Regions from separate parts of the Homo sapiens genome. Here region 2 is linked to region 1. The links come from fine-mapping of genetic effects on gene expression. Tissue or cell type: testis. Region 1 holds a variant in brackets; the other region holds the start of a gene. All regions are shown on one strand. Distances are between the middles of the regions.

Region 1 (2,680 bases):
GCCTCACTCCCACCCACCTTTCCTGGCCCCCACCCAGGAGACTCTGCAGCCCTTGCGGAGGAGTCCCCTCCAGCCCCGTCCAGCCGCAGCTCCAGCACCGAGGACTTCTGCTACGTCTTCACGGTGGAGCTGGAACGAGGCCCCTCCGGGCTGGGGATGGGCCTGATCGACGGGATGGTGAGTGGCCCAGGACCCTCGCCGCACCCCCATACTGGCTGCCTGGCCCCGCCTGTTCATGCAAGCCTGGCCGCAGCTTGCGTGGCCACGTGGCTACAGGAAGGCCTTCGGGGAGGAGAGTGGGGTTGGCCTCTGCAGCTGGGAGGGGAACCCAGCCTGTCCAACGGCCACGCCCCCTGGGCCTGCTGTCTCTTGCCTCTGTCCTCAAGCCTTTGGGGTCTGTCCTGGGCCTGTGGGGACGGTGGTGTCCACTGCTTTTCTGGAGGGACGCGTGAAACCATGAGTGGGCCTGGCTGGATGCCAGGCGGGGGCCTGTAGGTGCCAAGGGAGGGGCTGCAGTGGTCCTCGCTGGGGACAGCCAGTCGGGCCTGCGGAGCTCTGAGGCCTCTGCTTGTCCCCAGCACACGCACCTGGGCGCCCCCGGGCTCTACATCCAGACCCTGCTCCCGGGCAGCCCCGCAGCGGCCGACGGGCGCCTGTCGCTGGGGGACCGTATCCTGGAGGTGAATGGCAGCAGCCTCCTGGGCCTTGGCTACCTGAGGTACCCCCACCGCATGCACGCCCGGCCCCTTCTCCCAGATGCCCTGCTCAGGGGAGTGGACCTGGGGTAAAGGAGAGGCCCGGCTGCACCCTGTGGGTCTCCCCTGGTGCCCTCCTGCCCACCCCCACCTCTGGCATGGATTTCAGAGCTGTGGACCTGATCCGTCATGGCGGGAAGAAGATGCGGTTCCTGGTCGCGAAGTCCGACGTGGAAACAGCCAAGAAGATCCATTTCCGCACGCCCCCTCTCTAGGGGGGCTGCGAGGACACCCCCACAGGCCCGGCACCCGGTCCCACCTGGTGACACTGGGCTTCCTCCCGCCTTCGTCCCTGTTTTGTAACTGACCAAGTTGGGTCCCGGGTGGGGAGCCTCACCCTGGGGACATGCCTGTTGATAACATGCATCTCAGTGTAGGTTCTATTTATATGGCAGATGACGTGAA[A/G]TTGTGATGTTTGTTACAGAGCTTTTATGTTTAAAGACTTCAATGGAGAAGTACGGTTCAATAAACTATTTTTCCCGTTCTTAGAGGGTGCCCTGCTGGGGTCTCAACTCGGGCAGCAGGCGTGGGCTGCTCGGAGGGGCCGCAGGGGCTCCCCATGGCCTCTGCCTGCCACCGGCACGGGAGAATGCAGTGACAGCTGTCATCAGGGGATCATCTGAACTGACTCTCCCTGCCCCCGTCCCACCCAGACACAGGGCACTGCAGGAAGCAGCTCCAACAGCCCCTCCCAGCTGAAGCAGGGCCAGACCTGGCAGAGGATGCTGGACTTCTGATCCCGCTGCTCAGCACAGGCCCCAGAGAAAGGTCTAGACACCCAGGCGTTGGAAAGTGGACCGGCCTGATGGTCTCTGAGGCGCCGAGCCCACCCTGGGCCCTGCTTCCTCTCCCAGGACTCCTGCTCCCTCCTGAGTTCCTCTCCCCTACTAAAGCCACCAGCGTGGCCCTGATACCAGGCTGGCGGCCCCAGGCCCTTAATCCTCACCAGCGTCCCCCTGGCCACCGGCCCTAACCCGGGCAGGAGGCCAGCGTCCCTCTCCACCAGCTGGCTGACCATGCGCAGGACCAGGGCAGGGCACTTGCTGCCTCGGGGTGACAGCGTGGGTCGCTGGGCATCCTCAGCAGCTCCACCAACTGGGTGTGGGTGGCTTCCGCGCCCTCCTGGCTGTGGTGGAACTGGTGGCCCAGGGTCATCTTTGATAGCAACAGAGAAACCCTGGGGAAGAGGGTCCCGGCATCAGTTGCAGATGCACCTCTCACTGGGACAGAGGTCTGTGCGGGGTCCCCAGATCGGTGTCCTGGGTCTGTCCCAGGCCCTGGGCCTCGTGCAGCTCCACGCTGCCCCCTGGTGTGCGCTACGGCGAGGTGCAGCGCGTCCGCCCCGCGCCCTCTGCCGACCCGCAGTTCTGTGTGCGGCTCCGCATTGCGCCTGGCTCGAAACGGCGACCACTGCCAGGTTCCCAAAATACTGGATAAAATATATATATATATATAGTGTTTGTATATATATTTAAGATATGTAAAATATATGAATATATATAAATATATAATTATATATGAATATATTACATATTCATGTATACGTAATATATTCGTATATTTTATAAACATTTTTTATATTTTATTATATAAAATATAAATATTTAATTTTTTTTTATGAGACGGAGTCTCGCTCTGTGACCCAGGCTGGAGTGCAGTGGTGCAATCTCAGCTCACTGCAACCTCCACCTCCCAGGTTCAAGCAATTCTCCTCAGTCTCCTGAGTAGCTGGGATTACAGGCGCCTGCCACCACGCTTGGCTAATTTAGTACTTTTAGTAGAGACAGGGTTTCACCACGTTGGCCAGGCTGATTTCAAACTGACATCAAGTGATCTGCCCGCCTTGCCCTCCCAAAGTGCTGGGATTACAGGCGTGGGATTACCATGCCTGGCCTTGTTCTGTTTCTTTTCCTAGGAGTCCCACA
Region 2 (2,680 bases), 85 kb before region 1:
GCTGAGGCAGGAGAATCGCTTGAACCTGGGAGGTGGTGGTTGCAGTGAGCTGAGATCACACCACTGCACTCCAGCTAGGGCAATAGAATAAGACTCTGTCTCCAAAAAAAAAAAAAAAAAAAAAAAAAAAAAAAGCCAATCTTACTGCATTAAGTTTTTGAGACAAAAGCTTTTTTTGTCCGTATTGTGAGTTGATCAATAAGGAGACAGGAGCCTGGCTCAAATCTGTCTCTCTGTGTTGACTTTGAGGCACTATTTTTTATTAGAAAAGGTTTAGGAGGTGGACTTTAGGATTAGCAGGTGATAGGTGGAGGAAAGGGGAGGCCTGGAATGTCTCAGACATCTCTGTCTCACAAGAATTGATGTGAGCATTAAGTGAGGTGACCTAGGTAAAGTTGCCTAGGGCCTGGCACACAGGTGGTCAATAAATGTCTGTTCCCACACTCATCAATGTCTGCTCCGACCTCCATCGCGAATATGGGGTCATGACTACGGAAATCATACCACGATAGCTGTCCACAAAAAGGTTCACTCCCGAGGCCCACATTCTGCATATTGATATTCCGAACCACCTGAATCTCCCAGGTCTAGCCCACATTCCTCAAAGGGAAAACCCCAGCCAAAGTGCCGAGGTCACGAGCTGCTTTTTAAACAAGTCCCCAGGGAGAGCAGTTGGGGCCAGAGCCCCAGAGCTGACCTGGTCATTTTTTTGCATAATTGTAAGCAGGAATGCCATGACCTGATTTGTCTTTTAAAACTCTGGGTGGGAGACAGATGGTAGGGGAGAGGAAATTCCTCCCTTGTTCCTTTTCGATGTCTTAGAAGATGTTTATTAATTGGGGGCACAGCTCTACCCTCCCCTACACCCACTCACTGGGCTACTAGAAGGTGCTGTCTCGAAATAGCCCACCCAACCGCAGGAGCCCAGAGCCCACAAGCAGCTCAGGGACTTAGAACTGGTCCCACCCTTCCTCCGGGGACCCCCCCTCCTTAAGCTGCAGTCTGTGGGTGGGCTGCAAGTCCCGCCTCTCCACAACCAGCCCCACCCCTTTCTTCAAAACCCCGCCTCTCCGGTGAGGCCCCGCCCCCTCGAGGCTGCATCCCCGTCCATTGGGCGGCCGGCAGGAGGCGCCAGAGCACAGCCCGCCTTTTCTAGCAGGTTGGCCCCGCCCCTCTCCTGGAGACCCCGCCTCCTCGAGGCTTTCTTTCTGCCTATTGGGCGCCGAGGCCCAGCTCCAGCCCACCTGTTCTCCCCCGCCCCACCCTTTGTGGCCCCGTCCCCTTGAGGCCCCGCCCCGCCCGTTGCGCCGCCGGCAGGAGGCGCCGCGGCACGCGCGGGTCTGGGCGCCGGCCCCAGCCAACGGCGGGTGGGAGCAGCGCGGGAACGTGGCGGCGCGGCGGGTTGTGCCGGAGGTGAGTGTGGGGTGCGCGAGGAGTGACTGCGGAACCGGGGGTGGCTCGTAAGGGGCGCTGCTCGGCCGCTGCCGGGGACCTGGGGCGCGGAGGCCGCGGGGCGCGCTCGGGGACACTCCCGGCCGCTGGTCGGGGCGCGGAGGGCAGGTTTGCCCAGTTGCCATGGGAACCGACTGGCTGTCGGGCCCCGGCCTGGACCGGGGGGCGGTACCCGGAGGCCGGCTAGCGCGGGCAAGGGCGGCCCAGCCTGCGGGGATCCGGGGGTCCGCGCTGCCGACCCCCGAGAGCTCCTGAGCCTGGCTGTCCGCGTGGGCCCCGGACCCCCAACTCCAGGGGACTCTCGGCCCTCAGTTTTCCCGGCTGTGCCCTGGAGGGGGAGCTTCGTCCGGGGCGCGCAGCGGGGGAGCGGGGCGCAGCGGGGGAGCGGGGCGCAGGGTTCCGCGCGCTCTCCCACCTGGGCCGGCGAGACGTCCCCTGCACATACCCCGTCCCGGTTGCAGCCCGATCCCCACTCGTGCGCCAGCTCAAAGCATTGTTTCCCGGCTATTTATGTACCATTTCCAGCCCCTCGACAAATACTGCATCCAAGATAACAGATGCTGAGCCGAGCTCCTGGGGCCTCGCAGGAGGAGCCTGTTGGTGGGGTTGGCAGGGCCCTGGCGGGGCTGCGGACCATCCTGCCCTGCCCTGTCGCCTGTCAAGTGTTTGGCTAATCTGAATTGCACAGAAGAATCTGATTGCTCGTGTCCCGCGGTTAATATAGGCCACCTCTTGTGCATTCCAGACAGGAACCAGTCTTGAAAGTCCCTTTTGCTGGGGGGCAAGTCGGTCTCCTCTCCAGCAGCTAGCAGGTCAGAATTAAATCTGATTGAATTATGTTTGCATTTGAAAGCGTGGCTCGGGCTGGGGCTGTAAAGATAGGATTCATGGAAGGAGGGGAGAGAGCTGAGTGTGTAAAGTCTGCGCTTCGTTTTCCCTCCTGCTGGAAATGATAATGGGTTCCACATTGTCCTGTTGGAGCAGAGAGGTCGCTCCACCCATGTCGTCAGCGCAGCACTGACCTCACTCCCTGTACTCGCCGCTGGGACTTGAGCTTGTTTTTCATCAGAAACTGGACCCTTCCTTGAGAACAAGAGAAAACATTCTCTAAGAGCAGCACCAGCCAGCGCCCCACACCCTCGCTGTCCGAGCCCTGCGCTTTCCCCAAGTATTTGTGTCACAGAGGAGCGAATGGGGCAGAAGAGGCCGGTCGCACTTCCAGAAAAAC

What was found. PIP is the estimated chance that this variant, and not a neighbour inherited with it, causes the effect.
Region 2: it holds the start of RADIL, and the variant in region 1 is fine-mapped to the expression of RADIL in testis (GTEx, PIP 0.96).

The regions. Positions count from the first base shown.
Region 1 is chr7:4,797,668-4,800,347 of GRCh38, reverse strand. RADIL (Rap associating with DIL domain) reads left to right here. Exons shown (of 15, transcript NM_018059.5): 13 at 38-177; 14 at 579-718; 15 at 865-2,680. The coding sequence ends at 970. Among named protein-coding and RNA genes, the nearest start is that of MIR4656, 10 kb to the right of the region's middle. RefSeq lists a silencer at 2,121-2,170. The variant A/G (reference allele first, on the strand shown) is at 1,161.
Region 2 is chr7:4,882,329-4,885,008 of GRCh38, reverse strand. RADIL (Rap associating with DIL domain) reads left to right here and starts at 1,293. Exons shown (of 15, transcript NM_018059.5): 1 at 1,293-1,413. RefSeq lists a silencer at 1,262-1,481 and enhancers at 1,191-1,878, 1,879-2,567, 2,297-2,591.